Homo sapiens: one gene and its partners. The protein of the gene in region 4 purifies or fractionates together with the protein of the main gene of each other region. This does not show direct contact. Each region holds a gene or a part of one and is shown on either strand. Other genes may lie near its edges.

The links. Proteins that work in one complex are often made in the same cells at the same time.
Region 1: the proteins of ZMYND11 (region 4) and KDM3B purify together in Homo sapiens (affinity purification with mass spectrometry, with the first as the bait; one large-scale study listed by BioGRID). This does not show direct contact.
Region 2: the proteins of ZMYND11 (region 4) and SRSF4 purify together in Homo sapiens (affinity purification with mass spectrometry, with the first as the bait; one large-scale study listed by BioGRID). This does not show direct contact.
Region 3: the proteins of ZMYND11 (region 4) and SRSF10 purify together in Homo sapiens (affinity purification with mass spectrometry, with the first as the bait; one large-scale study listed by BioGRID). This does not show direct contact.

The regions. Positions count from the first base shown.
Region 1 is NC_000005.10:138,393,906-138,397,684, forward strand, and holds part of KDM3B (lysine-specific demethylase 3B), read left to right. Parts: intron 1-3,779. UniProt on the Homo sapiens protein: Histone demethylase that specifically demethylates 'Lys-9' of histone H3, thereby playing a central role in histone code. Demethylation of Lys residue generates formaldehyde and succinate. May have tumor suppressor activity.
Region 2 is NC_000001.11:29,147,243-29,151,179, forward strand, and holds the end of SRSF4 (serine/arginine-rich splicing factor 4), read right to left. Parts: intron 2,951-3,937; coding exon 2,861-2,950; intron 1,985-2,860; coding exon 1,168-1,984; 3' UTR 501-1,167; downstream 1-500. UniProt on the Homo sapiens protein: Plays a role in alternative splice site selection during pre-mRNA splicing. Represses the splicing of MAPT/Tau exon 10.
Region 3 is NC_000001.11:23,970,328-23,974,106, forward strand, and holds part of SRSF10 (serine/arginine-rich splicing factor 10), read right to left. Parts: intron 1,686-3,779; coding exon 1,523-1,685; intron 1,300-1,522; coding exon 1,246-1,299; intron 1,113-1,245; coding exon 815-1,112; 3' UTR 1-814. UniProt on the Homo sapiens protein: Splicing factor that in its dephosphorylated form acts as a general repressor of pre-mRNA splicing. Seems to interfere with the U1 snRNP 5'-splice recognition of SNRNP70. Required for splicing repression in M-phase cells and after heat shock.
Region 4 is NC_000010.11:249,897-252,795, forward strand, and holds part of ZMYND11 (zinc finger MYND domain-containing protein 11), read left to right. Parts: intron 1-2,451; coding exon 2,452-2,574; 3' UTR 2,575-2,899. UniProt on the Homo sapiens protein: Chromatin reader that specifically recognizes and binds histone H3.3 trimethylated at 'Lys-36' (H3.3K36me3) and regulates RNA polymerase II elongation. Does not bind other histone H3 subtypes (H3.1 or H3.2).

The sequences.
Region 1 (3,779 bases), on a different chromosome or scaffold from region 4:
GACCTTTCAAGAATCTTTAATTTTTAAAGTAAATCCAAATGGTTTACCAATATGGTGTGGATTCACTTAGCAAATGTTTATTGAGCATTTAATGTGTGCCAACCCTTGTTCTGGCCATTGAATATTCAGCAGTGAACAACAAAAAAATCAAATTTCAGCCCTCAGAAGGTTTGGGGAGGCAGACAGTAAATAAGGAAAAAAGGCCAAGCATGATTACATGCCTTTAACTCCAGCACTTTGGGAGGCCGAAGCAGAAGGATCACTTGAGACCAGCATGGGCAACATAGTGAGACCTAGTCTCTACAGAAAATTTTAAAAATTAGCCGAGTGTGGTGGCACACACCTGTAATTCCAGCTACTCAGGAGGCTGAGGTGGGAGGATCACTTGAGCCCAGGAGGTCAAAGCTGCATTGAGCCTTGATCGTACCACTGCACTCCAGCCTTAGAAGCAAAGCGAGGCTCTCTCTAAAAGAAAAAGAAAAAATAATAAGTGATATGTCAGCTGATAATAACTATGAGAAAAATAAGGAAAGAGGATTGAAGTGTGAGGATGCTAGAGAGGCTACAGTTTTAAACAGGATGATCTGAGAAAGTGAGAGTTGAGGAACAGCCTGCAGGAGGTGAAAGAATACACCACACTGTGACAGGTATTCCAGACAGGTGCAAGCATCCCAAAGCTGGAGTATTTCTGGTGTGTCCATAAAGTTAGGTTGCTAAAATAGAATAAACAAAGAAGGAAAAGGAGTTGAGGTGAATGAGTTAATGATGGGTCCACATTTTAAAGGGCTATTCCAAAGGCCTTGGTTTTTACTCTGATGAGAAGTCATTGGAGGCCTTGAGCTGATGCGTGACACTGATTAATGTTTTAAAAGGCCACTTTGGCCACCTTTTTGAGAATAAGCTATGTAGAGGCAAGGGCAGAAGCAGAGAAGTTAGGAGGCTGTTGGAATTATCCAAGTGAGAAATGATGGGGCTTGGACCACGGAGATAGTGATGGACATGATGAGAAGTAGTTGAAGATAGAGTAGACATAATTTTCTGATGAATTAGATGTGAAGTATGAAAGAAAGGACTTAAGGATGATTCTATGTCTGGTTCTAGATATGTCTTTTGGCCTAAAAACAGGAAGAATGAGATTGCCATTTACTGATAAAGAGATTCTTTAGGGAAAAGCAGGTTTGGGGAGGAAAAGGGGGAGTTTTAACTTGGCCGTGTTAAATTTGAGATGCTTGTTAGATTTTCAAAGGAAAATACTGAGAAGGCAGCTGGGGATACAGCTCTAGAGTTAAGGGAAGGGGTCCTACCTGGAGATATAAATTTGGATATCACCAGGTATTTAAAGCTGTCAGTCTAAGTGAGATCAGAGCATAGATAAAGAAGAATAGCAGTCCAGGGACCAAACTCTGGTACTCTCCAATGTTTAGAGGTGAGAAAGATGGAAGCAACTAGTAAAGGAGACTGAGAAAGAACAGCTAGTGAAGTAGCAGGAAAACTAGGCAGTGAGGTATCCCAGAAGACAACTAAAGAAAGTATTTCCAGGAAGGAATAATGAACTGTGTCAAATGTTGCTGACTTGAATGGGGGCGGTAGCTCACGCTTGTAATCCCAGGATCTTGGGAGGCTAAGGTTGAAGGATCACTTGAGGCCAGCAGTTTGAGACCACCCTGAACGATGTAGTGAGACCCTGTCTCTACAAAAAATAATAGTAATAATAATAATTTTTTTTTTTGAGACGGAGTCTTGCCCTGTTGCCCAGGCTGGAGTGCAATGGCGTGGTCTTGGCTCACTGCAACCTCCATCTCCTGGGTTCAAGCGATTCTCCTGCCTCAGTCTCCTGAGTAGCTGGGATTATAGGTGCGCGCCACCATGCTCGGCTAATTTTTTGTATTTTTGGTAGAGACAGGGTTTCACCACATTGGCCAGGCTGGTCTTGAACTCCTAACCTGAGGTGATCCGCTTGCCTCAGCCTCCCAAAGTGCAGGGCTTATGGGTGTGAGCCACTGCACCCTGCACAAATCAATTTTTAATAAAAAAGTAAAAATGTTGCTGACAGGTCATGTTACATATGGACTAGAAGTGACTGATTTAGCAAGGTAGAATTACCTTATCAAAATAGTTTTGCTAGATTGGTAGGGGAATTGCCTGATTGTAGGGAAGAAAATAAAAGGGAAAGGAACCTATGGCAATGAGTATAGACAACTCTTCTTTTTTTTTAGATGGAGTCTTGCTGCCCAGGCTGGAGTGCAGTGGCGCAATCTTGGCTCACTGCAATCTCCGCCTCCCGGGTTCACGCCATTCTCCTGCCTCAGCCTCCCGAGTAGCTGGGACTACAGGTGCCCGCCACCACACCCAGCTAATTTTTTATATTTTTAGTAGAGACAGGGTTTCACCGTGTTAGCCAGGATGGTCTTGATCTCCTGACCTCGTGATCCGCCCGCCTCAGCCTCCCAAAGTGCTGGGATTACAGGCGTGAGCCACTGCGCCCGGCCAAGTATAGACAACTCTTTAGAGGAACTTTGCTCAAGCAGATAAATGGAGGGAGGGTATGGCTTGAGAGGATTTTTGTGGTAGAAATTGGAGCAAATTTATGTGCTGGCAGCAGTGATCTGATACAGAAGAAAATAGATGATGTTGAAAAGAGAGGAGAGATTTAGTGGAGAAATGCCTTTGGGTTGGGGAAAAGTGATAGGATGTAGTAGGAGATACTGGCCTTTGCTGGTTCAGAGCAGCGGGAACTCATGGAATACGTGGGCCAAGTTGCAGGGAAGTGTGGTAGTGTCGTGGTGGGAGCTTGTGGAGGTTGTTTTCTGGCTCCTCTTTTCTCAGTGGAATAGAAAACAAGGTCCTCACAGGGGAAGTAATATTGGAGGTATGAATAGAAGGAAGGTATGAAAATAGGCATCTAGAAGAGGGAATGTACCAAGAAACTGTATTGTGACTGTCAGGCAATATTAAGGACTCACTTGATGTAGGTAGACATGAATTTAAAGTGTTAAAAGGCCAGGCACAGTGGCTTATGCCTATAATCCCTACACTTTGGAAGGCCGAGGTGGGCGGATCGCTTAAGCCCAGGTGTTTGAAATTGGCCTGGGCAACATGGCAAGACCCTGTCTCTACAAACAGTTTTAAAAAATGAAAAATTAGGCCAGGCGCAGTGGCTCACGCCTGTAATCCCAGCACTTTGGGAGGCCGAGGCAGGTGGATCACAAGGTCGGGAGATCGAGACCATCCTGGCTTAACATGGTAAAACCCCGTCTCTACTAAAAATACAAAAACAAAATCAGCTGGGCGTGGTGGCAGGCGCCTGTAGTTCCAGCTACTGGGGAGGCTGAGGCGGGAGAATGGCATGAACCCCGGAGGAGGCGTTTGCAGTGAGCCAAGATCGCACCACTGCACTCCATCCTGGGTGGCAGAGCGAGACTCTGTCTCAAAAAAAAACTAAAAAATAAAAAATTATTTGGATGTGGTGGCATGTCCCTGTAGTCCCAGCTACTTGAGAAGCTGAGGTGGCAGGATTGTTTGAGCCCAGGAGGTCAAGGCTGCAGTGAGCTGTGATGGCACCACTGTGCTCCAGCCTGGGTAACAGAACGCAACTTTGTCTCCAAAAAATAAATAAATAAATTGTTACAATGAAAGTGGCTCTGTGTTAGCCGGGAGTGGTGTGGTTCATGCCTGTAATCCCAGCACTTTGGAAGACCGAGGCAGGCGGATCTCTTGAGGTCAGTAGTTCAAGACCAGCCTGGGCAGTAGTTCAAGACCAGCCTGGGCAACATGGCGAA
Region 2 (3,937 bases), on a different chromosome or scaffold from region 4:
AAAGGATGATAAATTCCTCGGAAACCTGCCTTTATTCTGTTGGTGAGAAAAATCCTTTAGGAACGTGTTGGTTCCCTAAGATGGGTGATCCCAAGGAACAAAACAGTCATTACACATGAACTTTTTTTTTTTTTTTTTTTGAGACGGAGTCTCGCTCTGTCGCCCAGGCTGGAGTACAGTGGCGTGATCTCAGCTCACTGTAACCTCCACCCCTCGGGGTTCAAGCGATTCTCCTGCCTCATTCTCCTGAGTAGCTGGGATTACTGGCGTGTACCACCATGCCTGGCTAATTTTTGTATTTTCAGTAGAGACGGGGTTTCACCATGTTGGTCAGGCTGGTCTCGAACTCCTGACATTGTGATCCGTCTGCCTAAGCCTCACAAACTGTTGGGATTACGGGCGTGAGCCACCGTGCCCGGCCTACACATGAACTTTTTATGCTAAGAAAAGACATATCAAGATATATCAGAAAGTACAACTTCAATTCAAACACCATGAAATTTTGTCAAGCAAAAATAGTCTTTATTCAAATTTAATGGAAACAGGGGTCACTATACTTTGCAAGACGGGGAAAAATAAAATTAAAAAAAATTCTTTTCTTTTCTTTTTTAATATAAAACAATATAATCACAATACCAGAATATGGAACTCTACAGTTTATTTCCTATGGGTTACTGCAGGTATCAATTTTCCTCGACTGTGCTATTCACAACTTTGTTAAGTCCAAAAATATGAAACCAAAGTGGTAGGAAACTTAAGACTTAGCACTTTCACTAAATGGCATACATCGAAGGGCATCAATTCAAGAGCAAAAATGGTTGAACTCACCATACCTACCTATGTGGTCATTCCAGCCTTAGAGCCGTCCAGGTTACTGAGCTCCCTGTAGGAAAGGCCAGGCCTGAAAGCCAAGGCGTTTTGGATATTCTACTGTGGGCCATGAGTAAAAGGGGATTTTCAAAGAGAAAATTTTTTTCAGTCGAGCAGGAAGGCCTGGTGCCAGGAGGCTTTACTGAGAGGAAGCACTTAGATTTAACAATTATAGACACACCATTAGGGGAGTTAAAAATGTACAGCAGTGACATGTTCTACTCCAATCACTTGTGCTACGGCTACCAAACATGTACAAAAGACTTCTCGGGTAGTTCCAGCTGTGGCCATAGCCAGTTAGGACCTTGAGTGGGACCTAGATCTAGATCGGGAGGGCGATCTGGAAGCAGACCTGGATCTAGACTTGGACCGAGATCGGGTTTTTGAAGCTGACTTTGATCTGGAGCGTGATTCTGATGGAAGGTTTGGTTTCGATTTGGAATTGGATCTCGACCTGGACCGGGTCTCCTGATTGGTGCCAGCATTCTCACTCTCTCCTCGACCTTCCCTCTGGCTGGATTCAGACTTGGCATGTTCCCGCTCCTTTGACACGGAGCGGGATGGAGATCTGGACTGGGAGCGGTCAGTGTCTTCCTTCTTCTTCTTCTTGCTGCTGCCCGCCTTGCTGTCTCGCTTGCTGCCTCGCTTTCTGCTCCTCTCACTCTTGCTGCGGCTGCGACTGCGACTGCGGCTCTCCTCTCTGCTTCTCTTCCTGCCCTTCCTCTTGTCCTTGCTCTTGCTGCGGCTCCTGCTCCGGCTCCTGCTGCCCCCTTTGCTCCTGCTCCGGCTCCGACTCTGGCGGAGGCTCTTCTCCTGGCTCCTGCCCCTGCTCACACTCCCTCGCTTCTCCTCCTCCACTCTCCTCTCCTGACTCCTGCTCCGACTTTTGCTCTTACTTTTATGCCTGCTAGGACTCCGGCTCTTGGGTTTCCCGACATTGTCATTGTTTTGGATCTTCTCTTCAGCTTGGTCTTTGCTCTTGCTGCGGCTCTTGCCAGCGCTATGGCTGCGGCTGCGGCTCTTTTCCTTGCTGGGGCTCCTGCTTTTCTCTTTCTTGCTCCGGCTCCGACTCTGGCTCCGGCTCCGGCTCTTGCTCCGGGAGCGGGAGCCCGACCTGAGGAGACATGGGATACTGTTTGTGTCACATGTGACTTCATGCTAATCAGGAGATAAAAAGACCAAAGGGCATACATGTGGAGTTACACCCCCCAATATAAAGCATGGCTGGCACTGGCTGAGGATTGTTTTCTGAACCCTCACAATGCCAATCAGAAGCTGGAAAAACTGGCCAGGTGCGGCGGCTCATGCCCATAATCCCAGCACTTTGAGAGGCCAAGGCAGGCGGATCGCGAGGTCAGGAGTTCAAGAGCCAGCCTGGCCAACATGGTGAAGCCCCGTCTCTACTAAAAATACCAAAAATTAGCCAGGCATGCTGGCACACGCCTGTAAACCGAGCTACTCAGGAGGCTGAGGCAGGAGAATCGCTTGAACCCGTGAGGCAGAGGTTGCAGTGAGCCGAGATCGCGCCACTGCACTCCAGATTGGGCGACAGAGCGAGACTCTGTCTTGAGGGGGGAAAAAAAAAAAAAAAAAGAAAAAGAAGCTGGAAAAGCAGGAAGACTGGTCACATGATTGAAATCCAAGTGAGGCTGGGCACAGTGGCTCATGTCTGTAATCGCAGTAGTCTGGGAGGACTATTTGAGGTCATGAGTTTAAGATTAGCCTGGGCAACATAGTGAGACCCTGTCTCTAAAAAAAATTAAAAAATTAGCTGGGTGTGGTAGTATGTGCCTGTAGTCCCAGCTACTTGGGAGGCTGAGGTGGAAGCTTGCTTGAGCCCAGTGAGGTGAGGCTGCAGTGAGCCATGACTGTACCACTGGACTCCAGCTTGGGTGACAGAGTGTCTCTTTGAAAAAAAAAAGAAAAAAAAGTGAGACAGGGTACAGGCATTCCCTGCTGACCACCTCTACTTATAACATGGAAGACATACCTGGACCGAGATCTACTCTTAGAATGACTGCTTTTGCTGCTGCCACTTCGGCTTCTGCTCTTACGGGAATGTCTGCTTCGAGAGCGAGACCTAGGGGGAGAAAATATTTTTTAATACTTGCTGACAAGAGGCTGCTGATGAGCATCAATCAAGACTATATATATTATATATATATATTTTAGATGGAGTTTCACTCTTGTTGCCCAGGCTGGAGTGCAATGGCGCGATCTCGGCTCACCACAACCTCCACCTCCTGAGTTCAAGCGATTCTCCTGCCTCAGCCTCCCAAGTATCTGGGATTACAGGCATGTGCTACCACGCCTGGCTAATTTTGTATTTTTAGTAGAGACGGGGTTTCTCCATGTTGGTCAGGCTGGTTTCGAACTCCTGACCTCAGGTGATCCACCTGCCTCGACTTCCCAAAATGCCAGGATTACAGGCATGAGCCACCGTACCCGGCCAAGATTTTCAATATGTACAGCACTGGCTGTGTCCAGGCACAAACTCTCTCTTGGGTTCTAGGTCCACAGATGAAGTCACCTGCAAACCTTCCATCTGGATGGTTCACCTGAACCTCTTAGCAGCTCCTGAAATTCTAACTGTCCCCGATGCCGGCTCCTTTTGCTGGGCTCCTTATGTGCACTGATGCCACTGTTATTCATATGGTTCCTCGTAACAGAAATCACAGCCATCCTTGACTCCCCCGTCTTTCCCCTATCCCCTTACACACCCACGATCATGCCTCCTGATCTTCGGTCTTTCTACCTCTGCTGCTGCCTCTCTGGGCAAGCCACCATTATCTCTCCCCTTGTTCAACAACCAGCCTTTCTGTGTATACTTTTCCCCTTTACGATCTATTCAACTCACTGTGACGAGAGCTGTTTTAAAGAGACCGACAATCCAAGCTTTACAAAATTTTTTTAATGCATCCAGACTGTAGATTCTTATTTTCTACCAACCAGGACTCCTTGGGAAAATGACTGACTCCAGGCGTAAAGCAGGAAGTAGTACACAAAGATGGGCCTAGACCATCTCATTATGACAGAAAGAGGGAAACTTTCAAAGCTGCCCAGGCAC
Region 3 (3,779 bases), on a different chromosome or scaffold from region 4:
GCATCAAAAATAATTATCATTGGCCTAGACATCCGGTTTTTTTTTTTTTTTGAGACGGAGTCTCACTCTGTTGCCCAGGCTGGAGTGCAGTGGCGTGATTTTGGCTCACTGCAACTTCTACCTCCCAGGTTCAAGCGATTCTCTTGCCTCAGCCTCCTGAGTAGCTGAGATTACAGGCATGTGCCACCATGCCCGGATAATTTTTGTATTTTTAGTAGAGACGGGGTTTCACCGTGTTGGTCAGGCTGGTCTCGAACTCCTGACCTCGTGATCCGCCCGCCTCGGCCTCCCAAAGTGCTGGGATTACAGGTGTGAGCCACCACGCCCAGCCGGGCCTAGACATCTTGACAAGACATAAAGGTCCACCCTGAACCTAAATGTGTCTGAGCAGTCAGTGTTGTACTGTGGCTACTACTTCACTTTTGTATCATTCTATCTTATTAGCAAGCTACATTTCTAGGTTAACAGTTCTACCAAATATGAATATGAAAGTTTATTTTTAATGAGACAATGTTGCAAATTATGGTCAACCAACATCTTTTCACCAAATACTTCAAGCATAAAAAATGAGAATCTTTACAAAAATATACAGAGACACCACAAATTGGTAGCTGCCCATAACATTAAACAAACTGGACTCTTAAGAGTGGCTTCTCAACAGCATATCATTTTAATTATAACCATTGCCTGGTACAGGGAAAACTAACAAGTGTTTTTTAAGCATCATTGCAACATTGTATTCCTGATAATTTAAGTAAACCAAACTATGAGTAAATGAATGATACATGCCTAAAAATGACCATGGTTTATACTATCAGTGGCCACTGGACTTAGGACTAGTCCAAGACCTTGATCTAGATTTTGACCTAGACCTAGACTGTGATCTTGACTGAGATTTGGATCTAGGTGGTTCTTTTTTCCTTGATTCCTTTTCATATCTTGAGCCAGACTTATAATGTGTTTTGGAATCTGTTTTAGAGGTGCCTCTAGTTTTGGTGTGAGATGCAGACCTAGAACGTGATTTAGCCTTCATTTCTTTCTTGGGCTGGGACTTGGACCGTGATCTTGAATTGGATTTAGATCTTGAAAAAGATCGATTTCGGTGTTTGAATCTTTCAAAACAGAGGAGAGATATAATTAGAGTAAAAATTAGATTCTATATTAATCAAATTTGTTATTTTTAGAGCAAAAGTTCACTCTGAAATTAAAAAATACATGAGTCTTTTTCAAAGCAAAGTTATTTACCTATCATTGTCGGAATGGCTTCTGCTACGCCGTGGTCTTCCAGTCGGTCTACTGCTAAAAAGCATATCAGAAAAAGCAGTGACAAATATCTATTCATAGAGGCAAAGTTTCTAATTAAAAGCAAACCATAAAACTTTTAAAATAAAATGCTACAGTATTTTTTGTCTCAATGAAACATTCAATGTATATAATTAAAAGTATACAAAATAGTAAAAAAAAATTAAATGCTAACAAATACATTTTTTAAACAGATCACTGTGCTACACAGCACACTTACTTTCTAGGACTATACGATCTTCTATAGTTGTAATCAAAAGACCGACTTCTTGATCTCCTCCTTTCATAACTTCGGCTTCTAGAACGTCTGTATCTGTCATAATCATCATAGCGTGAAGAACTGTACACATTCCTCCCTTCCTTGGCTTTCATCTGATTTGGTGCTAGGAAATACAAAGAACAGAAATATTTAAAAATATTAAAAACAGTATTAAAGCCCTCAATAAATAGGGAAAAAAATCCCTGCATCCCCTCTTATATCCCAAAGAGAGTATGTATGACCCGGGTGGTGGCTCACACCTGTGATCCCACTACTTTGGGAGGTTGAGGTGGGAGGATCACTTGAGCCCAGGAGTTTGAGACCAGCCTGGGGCAACATAGCAATATGCCATTTCTACAAAAAATAATTAGCTGGGCCTAGTGGCTTGCACATGTATTCCAGCTACCCAGGAGGCTAAGGGGGGAAATCACTTGAGCTCATGAGTTGGTGGCTGCAGTAAATTGTGATCACACCACCGCACGCCAGCCTGGGGGTCAGAGACCCTGTCTCCAAAAAAAAAAAGTGTGTATGTGTTTTGGTGTCTTTTTTTTTTAATTATTTTAATTTTTGAGACCAGGGTCTTGCTCTGTTACCCAGGCTGGAATGCAGTGGCGCAATCTCAACTCACTGCAACCTCCACCCCACACCAGTTGAAGCCATTCTCCTGCCTCAGCCTCCTGAGGAGCTGAGATTACAGGCACGCGCCACCACACCCGGCTAATTTTTGTATTTTAGTAGAGACAGGGTTTCACCATATTGGCCAGGCTGGTCTCGAATTCCTGACCTCAAATAATCCACCCGCCTCGGCCTCCCGAAGTGCTAGGATTACAGGTGTGAGCCACCGCACCCAGCCTGGAGTCTTTTTTTTTTGAGACGGAGTTTTGCTCTTGTTGCCCAGGCCGGAGTGCGATGGCGCAATCTCGGCTCACCACAACCTCCGTCTCCTGAGTTCATGCGATTCTCCTGCCTCAGCCTCCCAAGTAGCTGGGATTACAGCATGCGCCACCACACCAGGCTAGTTTCGTATTTTTAGTGCAGACAGGGTTTCTCCATGTTGGTCAGGCTGGACTTGAACTCCTGACCTCAGGTGATCTGCCCCTGCCCGCCTTGACCTCCCAAAGTGCTGGGATTACAGGCTTGAGCCACCGTGCCCAGCCCTGGAGTCTGTTTTAGAGGTGTCTGTAGTTTTGGTGTGAGATGCAGATGCAGAACGTGATTTAGCCAAGGCTGGGTTGAGGTAACTGCAAATTTTCATCTTGAAAAAGGCACGTATTTATTTTCAAGAAAGTGTATTAGAAGACTGTTTTATGTTAAAAATAATACTAATATCCCCAACTATTTTCAAAGTCTTCTCACCATCTAGTTTATCAGCCAAGACCTGGTAACTGTTCTGACACTGGGAATCCATACCATAAAAGGATTTTTAAAAACTCCAAATGGAAGTGAGTGCCTTTTTGTTTTGAGATTGGGTCTTGCTGCTACCCAGGCTGGAGTGCACTTGTGCAAACACAGCTCTCTGCAACTTCAACCTCCTGGGCCCAAGTGATCCTCCTGCCTAGCGGGGACCACAGGTGTGCACTATCAAGCCTGGCTAATTTTTTATTTTATTTTTTGTGGAGATGGGGTCTCACTTTGTTGCCCAGGCTGGTCTCAAACTCCTGGGCTCAGGCAATTCTCCCGCCTAGGCCTCCCAAAGTGGTGGGATTACAGGCGTGAGCTACCACACCCACATATTTTACATTTTCAAATGGCTGAAAAAAATGACCACTGAACCATATGCTGATTTGGAATGATCCCACCACAGATTCCATTCATTAAGAACACAATTAACAAAATATTTATAGGTGGCCTATGAACAATGTGCAGTGTCAACATGCAGTAATATTACAGTTCTAAGACCCTAAGTAGAATAATAAGGCATTCCTAAATGCCTTATGTACACTTCAATTCTTATCTCATTCAATTCAATGAAGCAGATACTTTATGTATTGGAGTACATATAAAAAACACAATGCATAACCAGGAATCTATTACCCAACTCAAGAACTAGAGTTCCAATAGTTTGCATTGAGTACTCAAGAGCTCCTCCTCTCCTCAGCAGCTATTTTTTTTTTTTTTTTTGAGGCACAGTCTTGCTCTGTTGCCCAGTCTGGAGTGCAGTGGCATGATCTCGGCTCACTGCAACCTCTGCCTGCCGGGTTCAAGCAATTCTCCTGCC
Region 4 (2,899 bases):
AACTTCGAATAGATGAAGATAACTTGGTAGGAAGAGCTGGTGAATAACAAAATAAATATTGTTAACAAAAGACCAGGAGATCTGTGGAGGGAAAAAGAGAACTTTATTTTCTGTTAAAAAAACAACCTGCACATTGGGTGTTATAGCCTTCAGTACAAGTGAAAGCGTGCTTTCCGAATAACTTTTCCATGTTCTTCTTTAAGAAATTTCACTGCTGCTCGTAAGGTTTTGAGGAGCTGACAAGCTCTGACTGGTGAGGGATGGCAGTCGGCAAAACTAGTCTGAGAGCTGCAGCCAACATTTTGTGTTCCAGGTGCTTCTCCCCCCAGCTTCTCAACTCAGTTTTAGTTGGGTATGACAAGAATGACTGAATTTGTGTGATCAACTCTCACAATATCATTAGATGGGAATTAAGGTGTGCTGAAGATAACAGAAGCACAACACCCAAAGACGCCAGGTGCAGTGGCTCATGCCCGTAGTCCCAGTGCTTTGGGAGGCCAAGGTGGAAGGATTGGTTGAGCCCAGGAGTGCAAGGTTGCAGAGAGGTGTCATTGCACCACTGCACTCCAGCCTGGGCGATGGAGCAAGACCCTGTCTCTTAAAAAATTCTTATGAGTAGAAATCTCTTAAGTTTACTAAAGAATCAAGAAAATGGGAAGAAGAGGCTATAATTATAATACTGTCTTTTGTAGCACTTTACCATTTGTGAAACAGCTAAAGTGGGTATTTTTGTACTCTTCTTTAAGATGAAGAATTTGAGGCTTATGAGATTAAATAGAATGATTAAAAACCTAGTTGGCAGAGCTGAGCTTTTTGTGCTCATCACATTCTAGTAAAAGGGTTAGAATTCTTTCTTCTCGGCCAGGCTCGGTGCTCACACCTGTAATTCCAGCACTTGGGAAGGCCGAGGTGGGCAGATCACTTGAGACCAGCCTGGGCAACATGGTGAAACCCCATCTCTACAAAAAATACAAAAATTAGCCGGGCGTGGTGGTGTGTGCCTGAAACCCCAGCTACTTGAGAGGCTCAGGCAGAAGAATCTCTTGAACCCAGGAGGCAGAGATCAAAATGAGCTGAGATTGTGCCACTGCACTCCAGCCTGGGCGACAGAGCGAGACTCACTCTCAAAGAATCAAGAATTCTTTCTTCCCAATTACATCTTACATTGTTGTAAGAAATAGAGTAGTATTATAGGACAGAAAGCATGTAGGTATGCCAGATGCCGAATAATGGATGTCACGAGAAACACAGATAGATGTATCCATTAAATATATCCCCAGAAAGGGAGAAATTGAAAACGAAATAATAGGGTATTTGGGAGAAGGGATGGTGGTGCTGTGTAAAGTCTGAAAGATGAGGAAACTAAGAAGTTAAATAACTTGAAGCCACATGACCAGTGGGTGGCACAGACCCCAGATGTGAATCCCGACACGCCTCATCCAAGCCGTTTCCAAAACTGACTCTGCACCTAATGGGGATTTTTCTGAAGGTGCACTTGCTGACATAATGGATAATAATGCACACAATACACAGGAAGGAAATTAGAATGTTTAGGTATCAAATGTAGGCTAGTCTCCCTGGGTTCTTCCTCCAGGGCTCTCAACAGCCGTCAGATCTGCATGTGTCTATCTACAGAACTTTCATATTTATACTGACCTGTTGTCAAGTGTTTGTTTACATCCAGAAGGTCTCTCATCTTCCTTGCCTCACTGTGGGTGTCTGTTCATGGTACTACTGTTAGTTCACCAACCCAGCTTGGAACTTTAGCTTTACTTTTTTCACTCTTCTCTTCTCCCATGACCAAAGAGTTCAACCATGGTATATGGACCCTTGCACTAGAACATTCTTTGGGGGAGGTGTACATGGTGGGATGTTTAACAGCATCCCAGGCCTCTGTCTGCCAGTAGTACCTTCTGCCCTTAAGTTGTGACAGTCAAAAATATCTCCAGACATTGCCAAATAAGATGAAGACTGAGACTTGGCCACTAGATTTGAAGTTGTAAGTGACCCTGCTAGCAGCATATTAGTGGCATGGTATGAGTAAAGACTGCAGCGTATGTTAACGACGAGAGAAGAATTTGAAATAGGGAGTTTAGGCAAGTCTTTCAAGGAGCTTGTGGGGAGCAGAGAAATGCAAGTGGTAGCTGGAAAGGGATGTGAAGTCAAGAGCATTTTAAGAAAAGAAACGGGAATGACTCTCACAGAGATGGAAAAAACGGGAGGTGTCAGGTACCACCTGACAGCAGCTTGAGTTTGCTGACAACCAGGCATGAGCTGCAGTCATCCCCAGGGCTCCCTTTCCATCTGCTGTGCATAAAACGTATTCAGATTCCACAAAAGGTTGAGCCAGAAAGATCTTTTAAAAGCACCACCTCAAGAGTTTGCCATTTTAACCAGTCGCTTACACATCCACACCCAAGTCTAAAGACTGCCCCGATTTCTTACCTGCAGTGCTACAACTGTGAGGAGGAGGCCATGTACCACTGCTGCTGGAACACATCCTACTGCTCCATCAAGTGCCAGCAGGAGCACTGGCACGCGGAGCACAAGCGCACCTGCCGCCGGAAAAGATGAAGCTGGCCCTTCCCGGAGTCACCCCGATGATTACTCTTTTCAGACACAGCGGTTTTTGTTTCCAAGAAGCCAAAATTGTTTAGAATTTGCTTCCCATTTTGCACCAGCCTTTAAACACTTTTCGTGAAGAAATTTTGCACAGTAGTTTAAATCTTTTGTTAATGCTCCTCCGAAGTTTTTCAGGGGGTAAAAGTAACATCAGTGGAGGGTATTATTTTAAATAAATTTTAATTGAGAATTTGTTGCATTTTCAGCAAATTTTAAAACATTTTTAGGTTTTACAGAGATTTTAACCTTTAAACAACAGATCTTTAAAAAACAGGTG